Linked DNA regions of Homo sapiens: regions 2 and 3 are each linked to region 1. Evidence: fine-mapped expression QTL. A gene starts in region 1. Each other region holds a variant in brackets. All regions are shown on one strand. Distances are from middle to middle.

Region 1 (8,542 bases):
AAGTGATATGATCAATATCCACTTGAATCCAAATTTCCCTCATCAAAATAAAAAGGATTTACCTTGAACTCCATGCAATTAAAACAGTCAATAAACTGAGTTCCTTCTATGCATAAGAAGCTGTGGAAAATATAAAGTTAAACAGACAGGACCCAGATCCCAAGGATTACGTTTTTTAAATATTTTTCTTTAAAAATGAAACATACACTGAATATGTATAGACATCTTAACAAAAACAAAAAGTTTAAGGAAAAAAAATCCCATAACCCCAATGCCTGAACACAATTGTTTTCATTTTTGCAAATTACTTCCCAGTCTTCTTACATACACATAAATTTTTACTTAGAGACAAGCTGGGTGATGGCTACATGTGGGTTATAATATTCTCTCTCCTTTTATGTCTGTAGAGTATCCTACCAACATATATCACCAAATTTGCCCTGAGGGACCTGGCATTTGAGGATGAATGATTTGTGTACTTATGAACACTAATACTCACGAATTATACTAATTTATCTACAATAATCATAAGAGCACCTAACACTAACTGCAAATGGGAAGGCCATTTAAGCAGGGGACGAGCATGCCCAAAGACATGGATAAAAGAGTGTGTTTTGGGGGCCAGGTGCAGGGGCTTACGTCTGTAATCCCAACATTCTGGGAGGCCGTGGCGGGTGGATCATTTTGTACACAGTGCTATTGGCTAATATATAATTATGGACCATTCCGTTTTATTTTGCTAACAACTTTCTTATACCCATTTTACAGCAATAAACACTGTGGGTTAGAAAGATTAAGCAATCTTCCTAAGGTCTTGGAACTAATAAGTAATGAAATTAGGTTTCTAGTTTAACTTCTTTCCTCACAGAGGTGGGCAATCAGGGGATAGAGTCCTGGGGAAGATTAAAAATCCTTACATGAAAAAACAAACTAAAAAATAAACAAAAACAAAACAAATAAAATACAGAATCCTTATGTGGCTTATTTGGTCTAGGAAGATTTCTTTCCATCTTTCCAGAGCTTAGTTTCCTTATAGATAAATTTAAAAAGTTGAACTAAACGATAATTCTAGGATCCTTTTCAGGTTTATATTTTATCCCTGTCACTTATATTTTCTAGAAAAACTTGTCAGACATCTCAGGAATTGGGGTGGTTGGAGTGACCAGTACCTTTATTCAGCATAAGAGATGTTCTTCTAGGACCACATGTCCCTGGCAGGACACCAGGAGATGTGATAAAAGTTACAATTCACACTAACTGGTTGTGTATTGCTAAATCCAATAAACTATTTTCATTCCTCATCTTGTTCCACTTCTCAGCGGAACATAGGTAACCACCTTCTCCTGATCTGCCTCTTTCCTGATTTTCAGGCTGTTCCTTGATCTCAATCCCCTTTGCCAACTCCTCCTCCATTACCTGATTTTTAAATGTTGGAGTTGCTCAAGGCTCAGTCTAGGCCATGGGTGTCCAACCCTTTGGATGCAAGAACTTTTTTGCTTACCTGTGGTGGCGGACATCACAAAAATTATGCATGGGCCTTTTTTTTGTTTTTGTTTTTGTTTTAGCTCATCAGCTATCATTAGTTTTAGTGTATTTTATGTGTGGCCCAAGACAATTTTTCTTCTTCCAGTGTGGCCCAAGGAAGCCAAAAGGTTGGACACCCATGGTCTAGGCCATTTTCTCTATTCATTTGGCAATTTGCTCAAGACATTCTCATCCCCTCCAATGGCTTCAAATATTCTGATCATCTTTAAACCCAGACCAGATCTCTCTTCTGAGCTTCAGAAGTGCTTAGAACAGGGCCTAGCACACAGTAAGTACTTAATAAATGTTTGCTAATATTATTCTGTTCACTTGACTGTTTAGCAAGCATTTCAAATTCAAAATGTTCAAACTGAACTTAAAATTTTCTCCTCCCAAGCCGGATTTTCCTCTTTTCTCTGCAAACATCACCTGCATCTACCTGGTGCCAAAAACCTGAGTCATCTTTGGTATTCTCTTCACACTCAATCACTATGCTTTAACAATGTTATCTCCAAATTAGTTCTCAAATCCATCCACCCTGCCCTGCCACCACCCTAGTTCAAGATGCCATTCATTATCTTTGGCATAAATTGCTGCAAAAACTTCTTGAACTCTCCACATTCACTCTTCCCTCCTTCAAATCTATTTTCCATGTGACCAGAATGGGCTTTTGGAGATAGAAATCTATCTTTCATGTGCTTTAGTTCTGCAGTGTGTCTTATTTGGCTTCTGTGGTCCTGGAAGATGTGGCCCTTCCACATATCTCCAGTCTTCATGCCACATTCCCCTTACTAAACTCCAGCCACACTGACTGAAAGATCCAGCTTCCTCTTTCTTCAGGTCCTTTGCAGAAGATGCTGTTCCCTGTTTTGTGTGCTCCCCACCTCTACAATCATTCAGGTCTCAACTTAAAAGTCACATTTTCAGGCAGGGCTTTCCTGAGCATCCTGGTTAGGTCAGGTACCCTGGTCATACGCCCCATTGCACTTTGCATGCCTCCTTTTTAAGATGGACCATATACCTGTAACTGAATAATCCCTTGTTTAATATCTCTTCCCCTTGCCCTGACTGTAAGCATTTGGACTCCCTTCCTACAGTTGGGAAATTCCCTACCTTACGAGTTTGGGAATAGGGAGTATCAGAGCCTGACTCCCATTTTTGAGGCTTCAAAGGCCAGAAGCTGGTTCTCTCAGTTTTGCTTAAAATCACGGCATGGGTACGTGGCCAAAACTTAGCCAATCGGGACATTCTGGGGCTTTCAATTAGAAGCTAGTGCCCAAGACAGCAGGGACTCCAGAGAGGCTGACACATTTGGGTTTCAGGAACTGCAGGGATGTACAGAGGCAGGCAGTGTCCAGGGCAGGGGGTGGTGGACAATACAGCATCCACGTTTACCAAGTTCAGCAGTGGCGTGGAAGAGGCTCCGTGGGCTGGTTCTGTTGTGTGATGCCCACTGTATTACAGTTGCTGTGCCTCCCTTTATGCTTGTCCGTTTTGTCAGCTTTGTACTCCTGCCTTCCTGGTCATTCTGTGAGCTCTCCAATAGCCTTTCAACACATTCTTTTTTTTTTTTTTTTTTTTTTTTTTGCTTAAATCAGCCAGTTTCTGTTGCTTGCAACTAAGAACTCACGATGTTAGCAGAGATCATGTTTGTCTCATTCGACGCTGTCAAAAAGGTTTTGAACATAATCTATTGCACCTCTGTCCTACAGACTGAGAGTTCCTCGAAACAGCCACTTTACTCAATCATGTTTATACCCTTAGTGTTAAGTGCCGGAAGAATATGTACTAAATGAATGAATGGACTGGGCTGAAGAGCAATGATTTACCAACACTGGTTATAGTTCATGCAGCCCCTTGACCTAACTGAACACAGCATTATTACAAATAAGACATGGTCCCAGCTTTCAGGACCTCTTAGATGAGGAGCGAAAGGCAGGTAAACGGATTTTCACAATGCCAGGTGAGAAGTGCTGTAACAAAGGTTATGTACAGAACAGAAGGCAACCAATTCCCAGACACGGGTCAGAGAAGACTCTCCAGAAGTACCAACTGTATGCAATCTGTTAAGTTAGTGGACGAGAGGCCAAATCGGTGCAGACCGAGCAGCCGGTGCAAAGGCCAGGAGGGGGAAAGCTCCAGGCAGCCCGAGAGGGCACCGTGGCCCGGGCAGGGCCGGGCAGTGGGCGCAGCGGAGGAGGTGGACCCGCCCAGGAGGCGGAAGCCGCGTCCTAGTACCCTCATCAAGAAGAACTGCATTCCTGGCCCGATCGGCCACGTGTGCCCCCGAGGAAGCGCCTTCTGGGCATCCCGGCCCCGGCGTGGGTAGCGCGGGAGGGGGCACTCACCTGCAGGCGGGCCACACAGAAGAACGCCGCCGAGGGGTTTCGGAGGTGGATCCTCTCTGTCAGCAGGTTGCTGCCGTAGGCAAAGTACAGAAAACTCTCCTCATCTGGACCCGTGACGTCCTTGCAGCCCGAGTTGGCCATATCCCACTACGCCCCTGCACTGGAGCCTGAAGCAGAGTGTAAGGAACGGCCAGAGAGCGCAACACTGGGGCCCACTACCCCGGCGCAGTGACCGCCGCGCGGCAGCCTCAGGGTTAGGGGACTGGCGGGAAGCGTGGGCCGGTCGAGTCAGGAGCGAGCGCTCTCCTGATTGGCTGCCGGTCCCCACCGACCTGAGTCGCCCCCTTTGATTGGCCATCCCCACGGCCTTCCCTCCGCCTTCCGCCGAGACTCAGAAATAGTCTGTCCTGAAGCAATCCGGCGCTGGCTCCTCATTGGACACGACCTACTGATGTCCCGCCCCTCCTTGCTCAAGGCTTCCTCTGATTGAGGGGTGGACAGGCACTCCTCACAGGCGGGTCGGGTCCCATGGACACTGGCTGAAGGTCGTGGCGCGTGACTGGTTTCTTCGCTCTGGGGTGCTTGTGTGTGGTTCTTTGGTACTTTCTGTGCCTTAGGAAGTTCTGGTCAGATCTGAGGCGAAACAGCGGCCCAGGCGACTCCATCAACGGCTCCCTCATCCGGCAGCTCGCCGGGTCCTGCCTTCCTGGCCTAGAGGAGTCGGGCAGGACGGGTCCGTTCACCCTTTCTGCTGGTTCCGGCACCCCCAGCACTGGTCATCAATCTGACCCCTTTCCACGGACCCGTCGCCTGCTGGAGCGGCCCCTCTGAATGCTTGGGACTCCCTTCCCTGTTACATGGAAGTTACATGCCTGGGCTTAAATCCCGACGCTGCCATTTACTAGCCAAGTAACTTTGGGCACCTCTGGTCTCCGTTTCCTCTTTTTAAAAATCGGGATCATAATATAAGTTAGGGTCACAGTAGAAACCCCTATATTGTGTTTTGGTTACCCCCTCCCACACACACACACATCCTGGGTGTATTTTTTAAAACCTATATTGTTAACTTTTGAATGAACATAAGGGCATAGGAACATTGTCTATCCTTGACACCCAGCTATTAATCTCTAAATACCACCCCCCACTAAAAGGTACCAAGTGATCCTTCGAGAAATGACTGATGCCAGGTCAGGAGCTAGGAGTGAATGAGGACAACTTGGAACATCTTGTGTCAGAAGCTCAGGACGCCTCTCAAGACGAACGAGGTCCTTCTAAAAGGACATGGGAACCAGCCTGAAGTTGCCCACTGGCCAAAATTAGAACAATTTGAGAATCAAAAATAACAATGACTGCAAACTGAAAAATGATTGGAAACTTTAAACATAAAAAAGCCATTCCCCCCAAAGAGTAATCCAAATTAAAAAAAAAACTATAACTTCATTTGCCACACTATTGGTGGTGACTATTACACCAACTTTACTCTGCAAAGTGATAATTTAAGAAAACAAACAGGTATTCCGCCTTTCTAGTAGCAGCTGTATTTCGGGGTAACTGAAATACAGCTGATGACGAGCATCAGTTGATGAGGAAACAGTTCTCTTTACAAAAGTATGCCAACTAAGTCATCCTAAATGAATAATGGAATTTTATAATTGATTCATGCCAGGATCATCAGTGATATCATTTGGTGAAAAGGTGATAGGGAACAGGATATTCACTTGATGCCAAATTACTCCCTGAGGATTACTGCTGGTTACAATTTATTTATTTTATTTTTATTTTTTTGAGACAGAGTCTCACTCCGTCGCCCAGGCTGAAGTGCAGTGGTGTGATGTCGGCTCACTGCAAGCTCCGCCTCCCGGGTTCACACCATTCTCCTGCCTCAGCTTCCTGAGTAGCTGGGACTACAGGCACCCGCCACCATGCCTGGCTAATTTTTTGTATTTTTAGTAGAGACGGGGTTTCACCATGTTGGCCAGGATGGTCTTGATCTCCTGACCTCGTGATCTGCCCGCCTCGGCCTCCCAAAGTGCTGGTGTGTCCGGAATTGTGGGTTCTTGGTTTCACTGACTTAAAGAATGAAGCCGCTGACCCTCGCGGTGAGTGTTACAGTTCTTAATGATGGTGTGTCCGGAGTTCGTTCCTTCAGATGTTCAGATGTGTCTGGAGTTTCTTCCTTCTGGTGGGTTTGTGGTCTCACTGACTTCAGGAGTGAAGCTGCAGACCCTCGCGGTGAGTGTTACGGCTCTTAAAGGCGGTGCATCTGGAGTTGTTCATTCCTTCTGGTGGGTTTGTGGTCTTGCTGACTTCAGGAATGAAGCTGCAGACCTTCATGGTGAGTGTTACAGTTCATAAAGGTGGCTCGTCCAGAGTTGTTCATTCCTCCCATCCGGAGTTGTTTGTTCCTCCCGTCCAGAATTGTTCGTTCCTCCTGTCTGGAGTTGTTCCTTCCTGTGGGTTCATGGTCTCGCTGGCTTCAGGAGTGAAGCTGCAGACCCTCGCGGTTGAGTGTTACGGCTCTTAAAGGCGGTGCATCTGGAGTTGTTCATTCCTTCTGGTGGGTTTGTGGTCTTGCTGACTTCAAGAGTGAAGCTGCAGACCTTCATGGTGAGTGTTACAGTTCATAAAGGTGGCACGTCCAGAGTTGTTCATTCCTCCCATCCGGAGTTGTTCGTTCCTCCCGTCCAGAATTGTTCGTTCCTCCCGTCTGGAGTTGTTCCTTCCTGTGGGTTCATGGTCTCGCTGGCTTCAGGAGTGAAGCTGCAGACCTTCGTGGTGAGTGTTACAGCTCATAAAGGCGGTGCGGACCCAAAGAGTGAGCAGCAGCAAGATTTAGTGCAAAGAGTAAAAGAACAAAGCTTCCACAGCCTGGAGGGGGACCCAAGTGGGTTGCCCATGCTGGCTCTGGTGGCCTGCTTTTATTCCCTTATTTGGCCCCACCCACATCCTGCTGATTGGTCCATTTCACAGAGAGCTGATTGGTCTGTTTTGACAGAGCCCTGATTGGTGTGTTTACAAACCTTTAGCTAGACACAGAGCACTGATTGGTGCATTTACAATCCTTTAACTAGACAGAAAAGTTCTCTAAGCCTCCTACCTGGTTAGCTAGACACAGAGCCCCGATTGGTGCACTTAAAAACCTTTAGCTATACACAGAGTGCTGATTGGTGCGTTTACAAACCTTTAGCTAGGCACAGAGTGCTGATTGGTGCGTTTACAATCCTTTAGCTAGACAGAAAAGTTCTCCAAGTGCCCACCCGACCCAGAAGCCCAGCTGGCTTCACCTGTCACTGGGATTACAGGCGTGAGCCACCGCGCCTGGCCTACTGCTGGTTACATTTTTACAACACAGGGAAATCTTGCCCCTCCTACCTTAACCCAGAACAATCTTATCACCATAAAAGTGGCCCAGCCTGACATTAAATATCTCCCAATTTGATGCAATATGAAGCTCCAGCATCATCTATGAAGTATTCTTTCCAAAAAATTTTAACCTCAACATCATCAAGCCTTTAAATCTATCTTCCTGTCTCAGGAACTGCAAGGATAGAAGAATAAAATTACAACAGGAGAAAACAACCAGAAAAACCCAGAATAAATGGTGGAACACCCTACTGAACACATGGCCCAGTGTCTTCAATAAGTCAGTGTCATTAAAAAGAAAAAAAGCAGCACTGAGGGATGGCTGCTCTAGATTAAAAGAAATTTTAAAAATGTGGCTGGGTGTGGTGGTTCACACCTGTAATCCCAGCAATTTGGGAGGCTGAGGCAGGCAGATCACAATGTCAAGAGATGGAGACCTTCCTGGCCAACATGGTGAAACCCCATCTCTACTAAAAATACAAAAATTAGCTGGGCATGGTGGCATGCCTCTAGTCCCAGCTACTCGGGAGGCTGAGGCAGAAGAATTGTTTGAACCTGGGAGGCAGAATTTGCAGTGAGCCAAGATCACGCCTTTGCACTCCAGCTTGGCAACGGAGCAAGACTCCATCTCAAAAACAAACAAACAAACAAACAAACAATAACCAAATGTATGGCTTGTCCTCTGTTGATTCTGGTTTAATAAGCCAGATATAAAAGATATTTCGGGGACAACTGAAGAAATTTGAGTTTTCACTGGGGCATTAGGTGATATTAGGCAATTGTTATTAGGTGTGATAATGGTATTGTGCTTCGGTAGAAAAATGTCTCTATTTTTAGACATGTATACTGGCATATATAGGGTTGAAATATTTGATACCTATATTTTAAGATAATTCAGAACAAAAAAATACAGAAAGTGTTAAATGTTAAATGTAGTGATGTACATGGATGTTCATTATATTTTTAATGTATATATGTTTGAATATTTTCATGTTAAAAAAAGAACAAGGAAAAAGGTGATATATGGAAAGCCCTTGCCATGTAGTGAGCACTCAATAAGCAATAGCATTATTATTATTATACAATCTGCAAATAGGAAGATTATTGTGGGATCTGCCCCGCAGCCCGCAATGCAATGGGGCTCTTTCCTTGTTCACGGGCAGATCGGCAGGTCGAGAAATAATAGACGCACACAAGATAGTGAAAACTGGGTCCAGGGGGGGTCACCATCTTCTGGTCCCGTGGTGCCGCCAATGCACTGGATATACCAGCATTTATTATTAAGTTTAGTGAGGTCAGGGGTAGGT
Region 2 (8,542 bases), 45 kb after region 1:
TGGGAAGCACTCAAACCAGAGTGACTCCGGTTTGAATAAGGGCTAAGAAAAATGAAGCTGGATCACCAACCGGCAATTAAGGGCTGCACAGCCTGCAATCACCTTGCTAATGATAGCTAGTAATAATACTTTCTCTTTTACAAAAAAGAGAAGGGGGGCATGTTAGGAAAAAGCTGAGTGTTGGGAGAAACTGAGGCAGGGCTTGCATATCTGACATAATGTCCTCTGGAATGTGTCTAGCCTTGCTGGCTCCTTGCTTCTAGCCTTCCTAGGCTCCTACTCCCATTATCTCAAGTAGCAAAACATGTTCCATATAAACGCTAAACCATCACAGCTGTAAATCATGTGCTTAATGCAACATGTCCTTTTGACCTCCACATTCTCACCACATGTTTCTTTGTTGGACTGCCAATAAATAGCATGGGCTCCCAGAGCTCAGGGCCTTCACAGCCTCCACAATGGCGATGGCCCCCTGGTGTCCCACCTTTCTCTTTCAAACCTATTTCTCAATCCTTTGACTCCACCAGACTTTGTCACCCCCATGACCTGGTGTTGGGTCTGATCACCCCAACAGACAATAGATTTGGAAAGAAAACAGAGCTTCTTGGTTCTGGCTGCACTGGAGAAATTTGAAAAAGTACCAGTGCCCAGGCCCTCTACCCCAGAGAGTGTCAATGAATTGGTCTGGGCGTGTTGGAATCAACTGAGAGCTTTTACACAGCACCACTGCCCAGGCCCCACCTGAGCCCCATTAAATTAGAAATGCTGGGGGCGGGGCCCAGGCACTGACGTATTTTGAAGCTTCCCCAGTTGAATTGATTCTAGCTGGAACTGAGAACCATTCCCATCTCCACCCCACAGAAGGACAAAGGAAGGCCATCTGGGCTGGAATGGAGTTGGGAGAAGGCAGAGGCATGGTCTCATAGAAAGGGGGACAGCTGAGTGGGGTCATTCCCTAAACCTGTCACATCTGTATAAATCCTATCATTAATCTCTCCTTAATATGTAAACTACACTTACTATAGCTAATTTAATAAATGGAGGTGTTCTCAACATCTTCCTCCAAAAGCAAAAAACAAAAGCAGCTTTCGTCAGTTACCTTGTGTGAATGTCACCTGCTTCCTGCCAGATCCTGACTGATGTGCTGTGTTAGGCACCTGGTTGCAAAAAAATCAGAGGTGGTCTGGTTGCCATGAGCATGTGGTATAAGACAACATCTGGACAAGAGCTGGACTTGAAAGCTGTTCACGAGCCTAAGTTTAGAAAACGCTTCTGCCACCAACCGTCATTTCCCATGCCTCTCTCAGACCAGAATGGCCACATCTTCCTGTGCTGCTTTTGGCTCTGTTCTCTCCATGCCCATTACCTGCCCCAAATCTGCAGCCCAAATGCCAGCAGAGCACCAGTGTCTGGCCAGCTTCCACCTCAGGTCCTGGTGGGTATGGCGCAGTGGACACCACACCCACCTCCACCCAGAACAGTGCCTTGTGGCTTCCCTGGGTAGAGGACTTCAGACAGGGTAATGTCAGCAAAAAGGGAACAACACGTGGGACTGTAAGTCCAATTAAATCTCTTTCTTTTGTAAATTGCCCAGTCTTGGGTATGTCTTTATCAGCAGCATGAAAACAGACTAATATAATGAATGTCCCGGGATGGTAGATTCCAAACTGTGCTCCTTGAAACCCCTAGGACTTTAGATTTAAATCAGATCCATGAAGTGGCCCAAGAGGATCTTCAGAAACTTAGGAGGGAGTTTAAAGCTGAAAAATTGTAAAAGCCATTCTCCTAAATCAGTGAGCTTTAATGATTCAAAGGAACTTAAAAATTATATCATCAAACATTTTTACTTTCAGGTAAAGAAACCATGGACAGGTCTTGTTTCCCAGGACCTTCTGACAGAGCCTCTACTGATTTTGAGTACAGTCCACGGGTCCAAAGGAGGAAGGATGGACTGGCTGCTGGCCTGCCAATGGCAGGGGTTCATGTGGCTTGGTCTACCTTACCAGTGTCCAGGTTGAACCCTTAATCACTAGTGTAATTCCTCAGTCAAGCCTATGTAAATCCAAGTGCTTATATAAAAATAAGTTATTTCAAATCAGCTTGCGACATCATGATGATGATGATGATGATTACTATTATCATTATTGAAACAGGGTCCTGCTCTGTTGCCCAGGCTGGAGTGCCAGAGGCATGATCTCAACTCACTGCAGCCTCCACCTCCTGGGCTCAGAAGATACTCCCACCTCAGCCTCCTGAGTAGCTGGGACTATAGATGTGTGCCTTCACACCCAGCTAATGTTGGCCAGGCTGGTCTGGAATTCCTGGACTCAACCAATCCACCTCCCTCAGCTTTCCAAAGTACTGGGATTATAGGCATGAGCCACCACACCTGACCCAATTACTTTTAATAATAATAGTGCTTGTGGTGTTGATTAACATTAGGGAACACCATGATTAGAAGGACCCTCTGAAAGGCCCCAGGCAATGATTTTGAACCTTCTCTTTGGGCATGCACTATTTTCAGAAGCTGATGAAAACTCTGGAGCTTCCTCCCAGAAAAATGAATATACTTCAGACACATTCCATCTGTCCCAAAATTTCAGGGGTGTATAGACTCCTTGAAGCCCATACTTGAACTCCAGATTAAGTATTTGTGTTCTTCAGCATACACCCTGGGCAGAATTTTTCATCTGTCTTTGACAGAAGATCCAGATGGCAAAAACTTCATGGTTCACCTTTCCATCTGCCTGGTACACATCTTTTTATTTTAAACTTATTTATCTCATTAACACAGATGTAAAACAACAGTAACAACCCCTTGTTATGCTAGAAAAGGAAATAAGGAGACTTGAGTCACGTAGCCGATACACATGGATAGGAGGGCACTTTTCCTGTCATTAGTACCAAGATGATTGAGGTCCTCTCATCCCAGGCAAAGGGTGAAATGCACAAACCTAACAGCACTTTTTGCTCAGTTACTCTGTGACCTATTCCTGATTTTAGATGCAGGTAAACTAACTCCTGAAAATGGACATTTAGTATTCATATATATACTAAATATTTAAGGTATGTGACCATCAGAGGTAATTTCATTACAACAAAGCATAAAGGAAAACATTTTTCAAAAATACAGGAAAATATACATAGTGTGAGTTTCTCCAAGCCTTAAGAGGATGTGAGGAGCCTTAGGGGGTCACAGTAGCAGTTATAATTCTTGTTCCTACCTGCTACTGCGAGACTTCCAACTTCTTGCAAATTTCTCTCCAAACATTTCTCTTCCCAGGGAGT[G/GTC]TCTCAGCGCTAGTGGTGCTGGACATGATGTCCTACACCATTATTTCCACCAGGTGGCAGCGCTATGTCAACAGGCACTGCCTTCAATTTCCGTAGGGAACCTTCCTCCCAGTGAGACAAAGAAAGCCTTTCTCCCTCTGCATTACTATCAGAGAGTCCCTAAAGAGACTAAAGTTTTGTTTTGCTTTGTTTTGTTTTGAGAGTACAGCTTGTTCAGCCCTCGTCTCTCCATAGGTATCAGACAGGCCCCTGAAAGCCAAATCGGAGACAAGCCAACTGGGCTGTCTTCAGAATTGCCTTGCCCTTCTAATGACAAAGGGCATTTTCTCCCTGATTTGAGGTTAGAAAAAAAAAGAAGACAAAGATGACAGGCTTTGCTGCTGGCTCTTCTCACCACCGGGTTGGTTGAGAGCTTGAGAATAAGACAAAGCTTGGGTGAGTCCAATCTCTGCCACTCGCTAGCTATGAGACTTTAGGCAGAGTAACCTCTCCAAGCCTCTGTTTCCTCATCTGTAAAATGAGGAGAATGATGGTCCCTACTTCATAGGGCTAATGTACAGATTAAATGAGAGTCTAGCATAATCTCTGGTACATGAGATGCATGTAATCAATACTAGAGCTTATTATGATAACCATGTAGACCTACAGAAGTGATACAATTGCTAACAGTGGTTATTTCTGGTGGCAGGATCAGAGACGATTTTTAATTTCTTCTTTGTTTTTCCAAATTCTCTTCAGCACGCATGCATTGCTTTTATAATCATGAAAAGACGCAATTAAAATATAATAGATTGCTGATCCCCTGTTCTTGATGATTCCTCTGAAACATTCAAACTTTCTCTGTGACTCAATGAGCTCCCCAAGGCTGGGCCTATATCTTATCTACTTTGGAGTCTTTGACATGAAACACATAATTTGACACACAGTAGGCAATCAATACTCATTTCCTGAAAAAAATCTCAAAGGCAATTACTTCAGGTTTTAATTTCTCAGTGTAACTAAACATCTTTTTTTCCTCCAAGAATTCTCTTTTCTCACTTAGATTCAATTGCTAATCCTTTTGCCAAATTAATTAAATCCTCTCCAGATTCTCCCCAGTCAAATTCCTTAGACTATTGAGTTGGTTTTAGGCGGTGACATGGTTTGTCTGTGTCCCCACCCAGATCTCATTGTGAATTGTAGCTCCTATACTTCCCTTGTGTCATGGGAGGTAATTGAATCATGGGGGCGGGTCTTTCCCGTGCTGTTCTCGTGACAGTGAATGAGTGTCACAAGATCTGATGGTTTTTTAAAGGGGTGTTCCCCTACACAAACTCTCTCTTCCCTGCTGCCATGCAAGATGTGACTTTGCTTCTCATTCGCCTTCCACCATGATTGTGAGGCCTCCCAAGCCATGTGGAACTATAAAGGAAACCTCTTTCCTTTATAAACTACCCAGTTTCGGGTATGTGTTTATTAGCAGCTTGACAACAGACTAATACAGGCAGGTTTCCAGAAAGCATTTTACCTGAGTTCCCAGAATTCATGCTGGGGGGTGTACGGGGAGAGAGGTGGGAGATGGTCATGGGTGGTTAGATCATTGATTTGAGATCAAATCTTTTCAGTAGCTAAATGAAGACCTAAGAGCCAGAATAACCTAGATTATATAAAGAGATTATAAAAGGAAATAGGCATTTCTAAAAATGTATTACATTTAAAATTGAAACCCATAATGAAGAGGATGATTGTTTTTTACCTGTGGATAGAACACAGGGTTACTGATGATTACACTTGGCTATTGCTGTCATTTGGTTCTTTTGATCTTCACTTTGAGTCAATGGAACTGTTCAGGCATTCTGTAAGGAGGACAGACACCAGCGTGACACTGCCTCAGCATTTCTTCTACAAAAGAAAAGTCAAAATAAATGACATTAGCCCATAGCAGCTGATATATTTTAATTCTTTCCTCATATTATTAACAAACATGAGACTTTCTCTTTCCAGGGAAGTTGGATCTGTATGGGAATCCAAAGATAATTACAGCTGAGCCATCCTGAGATAGAGCCCCTGAGAGGCATAGAAATCTCCAAAGTGGCCTCTTTTTACACAGATTGTGGATATTCAGTTCTTCCTTTGGTCCCATGTTACAAACTAGATTATTCTTTGCTTTAGATATCCAACCATTCAGACTCCTAGCTGAGTCTTACAAGTTTCTAGCTCAGGAGGGAGTTGTTGGGTGGCAGGGGGTGGCTCTGTGGTTGCTGGTTATGTGGGGAACATGTGGGAAGTGCAAGGAGAAAGGAAAGCTCCGGGCTTGCACACGTCAGTCAGGGCTGGTTCCTGTTCCTGTAACCTAAGATTTCTGTTGACATGGTGCCAATTCCCTGGCAGGCATGCAGAGAAGCCTCTGTTCTCTCTGCCGCGCTGTGGCGTCTCACCTAGACACCTGGCCCCTGAAGCAGAGATCTGTCTGCTGCCACCACAGCTCCTCTCTCCAGACTGTTCAGATCTGGTCCCTGTAGGATGGAAGTGCACACACTGTCTCTGCCTGTCCCCAGGGAGCAAGATGTAAACTTCCTCCTTCATCATTCGGGCAAAAACTGAATAAATAGATGAACACCAAATTATGGAAATCTTCATTATGCAGGCCAGGTTGCCAAACATGCCCAGACCTGCTTAAGCTGAGAAGTAAAGGCTGATCAAGCTCACATGTAAAATCCTGGGTTATAAGAAAAATTCCAGCTGACTTGGAACACAGCCCCAACTCCTCCCACATGACCAGCAAAGAGCTGGTCCAGGAAAAATTCCACTTGTTTGGCCGGGTGTGGTGGCTCACGCCTGTAATCCCAGCACTTTGGGAGGCTGAGGCAGGTGGATCACGAGGTCAAGAGATCAAGACCATCCTGGCCAACATGGTGAAACCCCGTCTCTACTAAAAATACAAAAAATTAGCTGGGCATGGTGGCGGGCACCTGTAGTCCCAGCTACTTGGGAGGCTGAGGCAGGAGAATCACTGGAACCCGGGAGGCGGAGGTTGCAGTGCACCAAGATTGCGCCACTGCACTCCTGCCTGGCGACAGAGTGAGACTCCGTCTCAAAAAAAAAAAAAAAAAAAAATTCCACTTGTTCAAAGATGAGTCATCAAAAAGGAAGACATGCAGGATCTCTGCAAATGTAGGAAAGGGATAGGAAAAACCAATGGCAGATGTGGAATACTCACCAGGAAGAGGCTGCCATGGAGCAGACACCGGTCATAACCAAGCAATTACCAGGCACTTAAAAACTTAATGAAATGGTCGCCTTTAAGAAGGAAAAGGATAAAGTGAGCTCAGGGAAATGATGTTAAGATATCAGAAGGTGGAACATGAGCTCAGAAGAAAAGTGGAAAAAGAAAAGAAAGGCAACTAGGACTAGTCAGGGTTCTCCAAAAAAACAGAACTAATACGATATCTATCTATCTGTTATTTTGTGTGTGCATATAAAATATATATAATATTATATGTGTGTGCGTGTGTGTGTGTATATATATATATATATGTATGTATATTCTAGAGGAAGAGAGAGAGTGAGATTTATTTTAAGGAATGGGCTGCCATGATTATGGAGGCTGGCAAGTCCAAAATCTGCAGGGTGGGGGCTGGCAGGCTGGAGACCCAGGAGAGCCACTGTTTCAGTTCAAGTGCAAAGTTCATGTGCTGGCAGAATTCCTTCTTGCCTGGAAGAGGTCAGTCTTTTGTTCTATTTAGGCCTCCAATTGATTGGTTGAGGACCATCCACATTAGGTAGAGTCATCTGCTTTACTCAAAGTCCAATGATTTAAATGTTAATCTCATCCAAAAACACCCTCACAGAAACATCCAGAGTAATGTTTGACCAAATATCTTAGTCTCATGACCCAGCCAAGTTGACACGTAAAATTTAACCATCTTACCTAACCAAACCAATGCAATGATGATTCAAATCAAATTTAACAACAAATTCCAAACTAGAGTGACCTGCTCCCCTTTGGATTGTCTCTTTGAAAGGGAGAGGCCATGAATGTCCTTCCATCAGGGATGAGGGTCTTTGCTCCCTACATTGCCTCCTGTAGTCACTGGCAATGATATCAGTGAATCTAAACTCCCATGAGTGGGTCATAATGAATACTAGACTGATATTAGATTTTATCCTAGCTATCTGAAATAGGAATGACTGGTCTCCCTTGCCCCCAGAACTTTTAGACAGTTGGTTGAGCCCGGGACCCTGGGGACATGGGTGAGATCAATATGGCAGACTTGCTGCACTGTATTGCTTGAAGTCCTGTCAATAGCAGCCTTAATTTTAAATGTGATAGGAATCAAATTAAACAGATTTGGTCCCTCTGTTGGTCAGACTAATCAGAGCAGCTGATGAGGTAGCATACTCATGGGAAAATGTGAATTTGGCCAAGGATCTGTCAGGCCTTGTGGTGGATTTTTGTGACAGGCAATTTGCCACAGGCTCTGATTGTCTCTGCATGCTCTTGCTGGGGATGACAAGAATGCAAGGTCCTGACTGTTCCTTGCTTGGGATATTTCTCAGGGTTGTGTTTGCAGTAGACAGCCTTGACAAAGCAATATCCCCCTGCCCCAGACAAAGGGCAGACTTGCTCACCACTTACTATTAAATTGTATGTTCCCAAGCTCAGTGTTCCTTAGCTGCAGTACAAACACACTGCGTGTACAGTAACCACCTGGGCCCCTCCACATCACCCCTGTGGGACTTGGGGACAAGGAAAACCAATGCTAACTAACACAAACCTCGTGCAACTTGTTCTGCCATGAGTAGTGTAGTCCTTTGTCTCTGATCCAGTCTCATGTCATCTGCCAGCATCCATGAAACCATAACAGGCTTACTAGCTTGTAAGATGGGCAAAATTCCCGACTTTCACAGATTCCAACACACATGACCCAAGTAGGGCCAATCAGGGATTCTTCCCAAAGATACTTCCTCAAGAGCACTTCCCCAGAGTTCTTTCCCACTGATAGATGGGTGATGGGAAAATGCCATCCATTTTATCTCTCTCTCCTTCTTCCCTTTATCAGTTTATATACAAGTTGTTGGAGGTTAGCTTTACAATTTGGTCTTTTGGTAACAGAATATTTAGAGGGACTGTGATCAAATTCGAGTAATGAATATAGCCAGAGATAGATAAAATTGTTGTTGGCACGAGTATCTTCTCATTTGGGAGAAAGGGTAGGAATATTTTCCCTGGTAAGAAGGATAGCTGTATTTTGTTCGTTGTCATATAGAAGTT
Region 3 (8,542 bases), 110 kb after region 1:
CCTTCTGCTTCCCTGCTTCCTGAGCAGTTTTTAACTTAAAACAACTTCCTTTTTTAAAAAAATAGAATATAAACAAAGACATATAGATATTTGTATGCCCTCCTTTCTAGATAAATGGTTGCATTCCATACACACTTTTCTCCATTGTGGTTTTCTTCACATAACAAAATATTTCAGAGATTGGTCCCTCATAGTATATAGAGATTGCCTCCTTCCATTTTATAGCTACATAATTGGGCATTGTGTGGATATATTTTACATAACCAGTTGTCCACTGCTGGACATTTAGGTTATTTCCCATCTTTAACATTACAGATAATGCTGCATTGAATAATCTTGTGCTTATATCTTTTCATGTTTTTGCTATTGTGTCTTTGGGATAGATGCCTAGAAATGGGACAAAGGATAAATACAAATATAGTAATGTTAGATATTGCCAGATTCCCTTTCCCAGGGGTTTTGCTTTCTATCTGTATTGGCAGAATCTTTTTCCTCCTGATTTCTTTTTAAATTATGCCTTTTATTGGAAAACACTATATATTCTTGAATTACCTGGGAAATAGATGTTCCTCAGGCTCTTTAACTTTCTACTCTAGTAGGACCAGCTTATATTTATGGTACCCGTGTCTTGAAGTTCACTGGAACAGTTTCCTCATTGATCCAGCCTCTTGGGTAATTGTATAATGTTATTTTGTGGATTCCTCCTAGAAATTCTGTAGAAATAGAGTCTAGAAGGCTTAATATTTTAAATTGCACATTCAAATCTGGAACATGTTGTTAGTGTGAGTGGGTTGCCTTTTTATGGAGTGGAAATACCATTGGATTTATGAGGGTAGCAAATATAATTGCTCTTTATTGAGTAGTTATTATGTACCAGGTCCTGCCTGTGCTAAATACTTTACATGTTTTGTTTAATCTTCATCATATTCCTGCATAGCAAGGTAGAAGCTGTTCTCCCCTGTTCTTAGAGAGGTTAGGTAAGAACTTAATCTTTAGTCACACAACCCATAAGTGGTGTAGAGTTGGGAGATACGCCAAGGTCTTTCTGAACTCGAAGCTTCAGTTATTATGGCCATTAATTGATTTACTGAATTATTTTGTTTCTGTTAGGAAACTTTTAAGTTTTAAATACTGCTTACTATTAGATGGTTTGTCATAGTCACTTGAAATTCTTAAATTGGAGGGCATACATCATTTTACAGGATTTGGCACTGATGATCAATGTATAGAATGTGCAATACACTGGAAAATGCTGAGGTGAATAAGATACAGCTTCTGTCTTCTAGGCGCTTAATATCTAATGGGAAAGGAAAGTTCAATGCACATTTAATTACTCCATTGAGGAGAGGGTGGTGGCTATTAATAGTATATTTGCTTGACTGGATCTTTAAAATACAGAGAAATGCAGAAATGCACCTTAAATATGTTCAGAGTAGTAAAATTCAGCTTTGAAAACTTATTTAGGTAATTTCAGATTCTTGCCAACCAATAACTATTATAATTGAATAAGAGGTATTTTGCTTTATCTTTCACTTTGAAACAGTGACTATATGAGTTTTAGGTCCCAGAAGGATATTTTTTTCTCTCTTGATAAATGGAAAGTGAATAAATTGGTTATGGTTTTAATGTGGGTGTCCTGAAGGTTAGGTTAATTGTGATGTTCCTGAATTTTGTGTGATTGTAGCAGTGGATGGCTAGGGTTATATATAATACTTTATATCTTATGCCTTGTTTTCTCTGTCTTTTACACTAATTTCTTTATATGTCTTTTAGCTTGATAACTATGGACAGCAAGAACTTGCGGATCTTTTTGTGAACTATAATGTAAAATCTCCCATTACTGGAAATGATCTATCCCCTCCAGTGTCTTTTAACTTAATGTTCAAGACTTTCATTGGGCCTGGAGGAAACATGCCTGGGTATGTATCACTTATTGTTTACCTGTTTATGTAATGAAGTTTTTAAAATTGCTTATATTAAAAGGTAAATATCAATGTTATGAAGGAAAAATTTTTAAAAAGTGATATACAGAAGTACAGATGAATGTATTATGGAGAAATAATGGCAGAAATAAATCTTTTAAAAAATTCTTTCTGAATATAATTTCTTTTTTGGCATATATGTATTTTTTTGGCATAAAATAAAGTCTCTGATCACTATATCTTCTAGTTATAGCTGCATAGGGTAGAAGGGACAGTTGAAGAATGGTTTTAAAAGCCGTTGAACTTATTGCTGAAGGATATTTTAGAAACCATTTAGTTTAGCATGCTACTGTCCAACGGAACTTTCTGCAGTGATGGAAATGTTCTGTAATGTGTGTTGTCCAGTATGATTAGCTACCAGCCACATTTGGCTCTTGAGCACTCATAATGGGTCCAGTTCTTCTGAGGCACTGAATTTTAAAATTTATTTCATCTTAATTGAAATTTAAATAGACATCTGCCTGGTGTCCTACCATATTGGACAGCATAGGTATAGCCTGTTGATTTGAAAGATGTGGTTTTCATGGATAAAGAATATCTGGTTAGTTTACAGTATGATTCAGAATTGGAATCTTTATCTTCTGATTCCTTGTCCACTGTTTAACAGACTTAGCCAGTGTTCCATTTCATAGCTTTAGATATTTTTCTATGATAGGGTAAGAGAGTAAGTTTTTCCTACATGAGCTAGATAGATCGTGTTTCCCAGAGTAGGGACTGAAGAATAAGAAAAATTAATTGTGACAAAATGTGTTGCAGTTAATTATTCTAATGAGACATCAGGTTGATTTGGAATATTTCATGGAAAGAGGCCAGTGGCAAGCCTTTCATTTTGGCCATATGTACAGAGTCATAAAATGAGACATAACCTGTGACCCAGACATTCCATTTCTGGGAATTGATCTAAGGAAATAATTCAGAAGGAAAGGAAATTATACTTAGAAGAAGTATATAAATTGAAAGTAGAAATAACCTATTCAGTAATTTGAGAGTGGTTAAACAAATTATGGTAAAGTGGATTAGTTTGGGATAATATTCTGTCACTATTAAATGTGAGAAATTTGTGCCATTATTTAGAAAATGGGAAGTATAAAATAGGTAATACATGATTTTATACATACTAACTGTAAATATATGTATAAACTTTACTTACATTTGGATGAAATCTGGAAAGGGCCATAAAAATCAAAAGAGTTGGTCTGTTAAGTAAGAAGAGGGTACAATTTTAGGGTTTTTAGCCCTTGGTTTTAAAGTTATTTTAGTAAAATACTTATTCTGAAGTAGGCCATTGGGAGCGTTTCCTTAGTGGATGTTTTGCACAGAATATCTTCTAGGAAATTGAGAGGGCAGTGGTTATAGTAGTGTATTTGCTTGACTATATCTTTAAAATACAGAGAAATGCGGAAGCCTCTGGTTGAAAATATAAAATACTGCAGATAATAAAATGATTTGAAAAACATTGAAAATTACCTGGCTTGGTGAGGTGATAGTGATAAGTGAGTGCTGATGTTAAATGTGAGCCTATACTGATTTCTTTTTAGCCCCTCAGTTAAGTTTTAATATGTGGGTTAACAGGGCTAAACATAGGCATGGGTATTATTTTCCAAAGGACCTAAGATTGTCATCTGCCTCCATGTACATGATGACTTAGAAGACATCAGGGGTTTAAGGGGCACTATGGGAGAGGTGGTGTTTTTTGTTTGTTTGTTTTGAGATGGAGTTTCGCTCTTGTTGCCCAGGCTGGAGTGCAATGGCGTGATCTCGGCTCACTGCAACCTCTGCCTCCCAGGTTCAAGCGATTCTCTTGCCTCAGCCTCCTGAGTAGCTGGGATTACAGGCATGTGCCACCACGCCTGGCTAATTTTGTGTTTTTAGTAGAGACAGGGTTTCTCCATGTTGGTCAGGCTGATCTCGAACTCCCAACCTCAGGTGATCCGCCCACTTCAGCCTCCCAAAGTGCTGGGATTACAGGTGTGAGCGACTGCGCGCGGCCTGAGGTGGTGTTTTTAAATTTATTTTTATTTCTGCTTTTTGAGAAGTGGGGTTTTGACTCACTGGTGTAATTAAATGAAATGGCATTGCCAAAGTAGTACTGCCACACTAATTACTTAATACATTTTCTAATACGTGCTATGAAAATGTTTGCTACCGAGGAAAATATTTCTAAAACTTCATTTTAGGGCCTGTTCAACTTTGTTGTGAAAATGGTATATTTAGGACTTTTAGGATTTGTATCTAGAATTTCAGGATTGTTGGAAAACATAATTTCTTTCTTTGTAACAGACTGACTTACTTAAATTTATAGGTACTTGAGACCAGAAACTGCACAGGGGATTTTCTTGAATTTCAAACGACTTTTGGAGTTCAACCAAGGAAAGTTGCCTTTTGCTGCTGCCCAGATTGGAAATTCTTTTAGAAATGAGATCTCCCCTCGATCTGGACTGATCAGAGTCAGGTACTGCTCAGGTTACTCTTACAAATTAGTGAATGACCTTGGCATTGCATTGAAAATGAAAGCTTGCTGTTTTGAA[G/A]CAATTCTGCTTCATAATCCTGATTATGAATTTATTTTTGTTTTCTCCAAAAATCATGTTTTACATTTGGAATCTCTAAATGTAATCTCCAGGATGACAGGCAGTTTTGAGTGACAAAAGTGAACTTGAAGGGAAAGGAAGGAGGGTGGAGACTGTCTTAAGAGTCTCACCTGCTCCAAAATTACCTTTTTCCTTGTTCATCGTATATTTTGAGGATGGTAATATCTTGATTGTCTAAACCAAGGCAATACTGGCAATGGTGATGTGTATAAAAGGGTGGGGTCGGGTGGGGGTAGGGTGAAAGTTGTGGCAGGAGGATTGTTCTAGATATCTAGGGCAGACAACATTGCTGAAGTTGGGGTGAGGATGTATCAGTAACCAACTGGAGTTCTGGAAACAACCTCCGTCCAGGTATTTGGGGGGCCTATATGACAGAAAGGCCAGCAAGCAAGCTTACCCTCATCACTCACTTGGCCTCTATTCAAATAGCCTACTTTTGTCTGATCTATCCAGGGATGTGTGGGAAGGCATATTGGGGCTGGTGAGTTCTATATTTCTTTAGAAATTTATTATGACTCAGCTGTTTATGACTTAAGTTTTTTGTGATTTCTATACGTTATTCCTGGTATCATCTCTTAGAGTAATACATTCCATATAAAATACGAGGTGTAGCTAAACATAACTTTCTAAGGCCCCAAAGTGTTTTCCCAGCCCCAGCGCCCACCCATTTCCTGTCTTCTCTTCTTACTCACTGTAATTACAGACTTGGGTCATAACATAGCCCAGTCACTGACTCTGGATCAAAGCATCCACAGCACCTGCCTCATCTTGTTAGTTCCCATGATGCCATCTGGGAGAAGATGCCTATGTTCTGCGCAAACTGTATCTCTAGGCCCTACAGGTTTACGGTTTAGGAAGGAGGGACTTACAGAGGAAAGAATGTGCCCAACTTAGAGAAAGTTGGGGGAATGACCCCTCTGAGCTTTCATGTAAAAAGAGGAGGTCATCAGAAACTTTAGCCAGGTATGATGGCAATGACAAATTTGTCAGATTTGAGTCTTTGTTTTATTTCCCAGTGTCTGAGTGTTTTTGTTTTTTTGTTTTTCACCGTTTCAATATCTAGCAAGTATGCCTTCCCAAACTGAGGAAGCTGCGTAAGGCTGACCTTGTCTGAAGCCAGTGTTACGAAGAGGGTTTACACAGAGTAGCTATGGGAAGATTATTGAGAAGGACTGAGAAGTAAGGCAGTGTCTGGGGCCTGTGCAGTAAAAAAGTGGTGAGTAGGGAAACCAGCTTGGAACTTGGGAGTGATCCCAGGGGTTAACTGGTAGAAAGGCTCTGGGGCTTCTCAACAGTGGATTCTTTGGTCATTTTCACTTCAAAGTGTCATGTCTGAATTCTGGCTAGTTTTGTTATGTCCCTTGCAAGTTCCTGACCAGAAGTCCACTAGTTTTTTCATGAGTCAGCATCCTCCTGGCTTTTGTTCCATGGTAGGACTAGGATTGGTTTATTTAGTGTTCTGATTCTTCTTGATGGCAGAGTTCTCTGGTGATTAATCTTTGCATAGCTGTATTTCCTTTTGTCCTTTTGTTAGTTTAGAGGTATTAGATTGTTCATATGAAGATTTTTCTAAAATTTTATTTTATTTTGATTGACTTATCTGTCTTCCTAGCCTGTGTGTATTTTAGTTCTCTACAGTTTCAGGTACAGTTGCTGAACTGAGATACAGTTACTCAGAATTCTGATGATTCCTGCCTCCTATCTATGAGCTGAGATTATTGATGAGTAAATTTTGTATGATTTGTATGATTTCAAGTCACACAGTGTGGTGCTTTGATATGCTTATACATTGTGAAATGATTACCACAGTCAAGCTAATTAACATAATTATCACCTCACATAGTTACTTTTTTTTTTTTTAGTGGTGAGATCTACTTAACATCTACTCTTTGAGCGGATTTCAGGTATACAGTGAATCATTAACTATAGACACAGTGCTGAGATTTGTGACAGAACAGATGGAAAGACTTTGGCAGCAGCATTTTGGAGATTCTAGGCAGGGCCCGTAATTTATCCTGTCCCACATTGTAGATGTTCAGTTGCTGTCAGCCCAATTATAAGCTATGTGAGGACAAACACCATGTTTGTTTCTCTCACATTTATATGGGCACAGAAGATGTTTCCTAGTTGTTGAAAGACAACTAAAACATAGGTGCAGCAGGACCAAATAAGAGACACTATTAAAAAATAAAATTTAAAAATTAAACCTCTTGGCCGGGCGCAGTGGCTCACGCCTGTAATCCCAGCACTTTGGGAGGCAGAGGCGGGCGGATCATGAGGTTCAGGAGATTGAGGCCATCCTGGCTAACACAGTGAAACCCTGCCTCTACTAAAAATACAAAAAATTAGCCGGGCGTGGTGGCGGGCGCCTGTAGTCCCAGCTACTCGGGAGGCTGAGGCAGGAGAATGGCGTGAACCCGGGAGGCGGAGCTTGCAGTGAGCCGAGATCGCGCCACTGCACTCCAGCCTGGGCGAGCGAGACTCCGTCTCAAAAAAAAAAAAAAAAAAATTAAACCTCTTTTGCAGTGTATTTCATGTATTTTTAGGATCCATTTAAGCAATTTTACATTACTCGTAAAACATCTGAGATAATCATGGAAGCACACCAGAAAATGTGATTTTTCTTGAAAGAAGAGAGATTGATTTTGACTCATAAAATTAACTTGAAACACTTCTCCCGCAAATAGCTACTAAATTGCATTCAGAGAAATCTCTTTGGGAAACCATTACTATGTGCACTTCATCGTTAGGTAATTAGCTTGATGTTAGCTTGTTCAATTCATGCCTTATATCCTTTGCCTTGAATAACACTTTATTTAAGAAGCTCTTGCTCCAAAGAAACCAACTGTATGATGCCATTATCAGTCATTTACTTTTTTGTAGCAGTAAAAAAGAAGAAATCAAACTGCTATGAAAGCTAAAGAACCATTTCATTTCGCTTTTAATTTCCCATTCTTTGAAATGGGATGAAGAAACTTCATTTAGTGTATACTTATAAAGACTTGCTAATGCTTTAAGGAAAACCATTTTATCTGCATGTCACTATTCAATATCTTATTTCTTATTTTTCATGTGATTTTTGCGTATGTTTTCCTAATTTAAAAAACTATATTAATCTGCCTTTAACAAGTTATTTTCAGTTAAAAGTAATAATCTTTTTGGATGTAGCTGGAGGGAAGGAATTAATACTTCAGAGAAGTTAGATCATGTTTATTTTAAATAGTGAGTAATAAAATTTTCATTAATGTGTTTAAAAATAACCTTCACATGTACCCCATAAATTTGTACAAATATAATACATCAAAAAAATAAAAATAACAACTACCCAGACAAATTTAATTCAAAATTTTTTTGGCCATTCCCTTAGGAAACCAACTTTCTGTTTAGTGAAAAAGACCACTATAGTATGGAGCCTTTATCACTAGAATGCAGTTGAAAATAGAGGCCTTGTTTTTTGTTTGTTTGTTTTTTGTAGTTAAATATGCAGGTTTATCGCTTACGTTTTTGCTTTCAGAGAATTCACAATGGCAGAAATTGAGCACTTTGTAGATCCCAGTGAGAAAGACCACCCCAAGTTCCAGAATGTGGCAGACCTTCACCTTTATTTGTATTCAGCAAAAGCCCAGGTCAGCGGACAGTCCGCTCGGAAAATGCGCCTGGGAGATGCTGTTGAACAGGTAGGATTCTGGAGGTAACTTAACTTAGATTGTGCCTGTTCAGGGTTTGCAGCAATTAGCAAATTCTATGTGTTCTGGGTGACAAGATATTTTATTTTGGCAGTCATTTGCTTTTTTACAGTACTTGGTTTTGTACAGAATTTGTTATACAGTATTATTATAGTAAGAGAAAAATCACCTGAACATCTCAATTTGTGGGCCTTGGGGCTAGCATGAAAAAAAATGTTTAGCAGAGCACTTGGAAAATAGATCTTGGTTTGCATTGTGCCTCACCAATCTGACTCAACAGTATGTA

Which allele goes with the higher level. Alleles are on the strand shown, and positions count from the first base shown. SD is a standard deviation of normalised expression in the study named. Not every link is listed here.
As copies of GTC replace G in region 2, the expression in unexposed skin of the gene that starts at base 4,133 in region 1 goes down (small effect, 0.28 SD a copy in GTEx).

Evidence for each region. PIP is the estimated chance that this variant, and not a neighbour inherited with it, causes the effect. A credible set is the group of variants that fine-mapping cannot tell apart.
Region 2: its variant is the best candidate, but not a certain one, in a credible set for the expression of GGCT in unexposed skin (GTEx, PIP 0.54).
Region 3: its variant is the best candidate, but not a certain one, in a credible set for the expression of GGCT in lung (GTEx, PIP 0.79).

The regions. Positions count from the first base shown.
Region 1 is chr7:30,500,697-30,509,238 of GRCh38, forward strand. GGCT (gamma-glutamylcyclotransferase) reads right to left here and starts at 4,133. Exons shown (of 4, transcript NM_024051.4): 1 at 3,873-4,133. The coding sequence starts at 4,013. RefSeq lists enhancers at 3,341-4,220, 3,869-4,078, 4,221-5,099, 4,519-4,608 and a silencer at 3,539-3,718.
Region 2 is chr7:30,545,613-30,554,154 of GRCh38, forward strand. It overlaps GARS1-DT (GARS1 divergent transcript), which reads right to left. Exons shown (of 7, transcript NR_038889.1): 6 at 6,488-6,567; 7 at 2,745-5,169. Among named protein-coding and RNA genes, the nearest start is that of GARS1-DT, 28 kb to the right of the region's middle. RefSeq lists an enhancer at 3,077-3,578. The variant G/GTC (reference allele first, on the strand shown) is at 3,289.
Region 3 is chr7:30,607,812-30,616,353 of GRCh38, forward strand. It overlaps GARS1 (glycyl-tRNA synthetase 1), which reads left to right. Exons shown (of 17, transcript NM_002047.4): 7 at 1,774-1,919; 8 at 4,285-4,434; 9 at 8,085-8,247. Among named protein-coding and RNA genes, the nearest start is that of GARS1, 17 kb to the left of the region's middle. The variant G/A (reference allele first, on the strand shown) is at 4,511.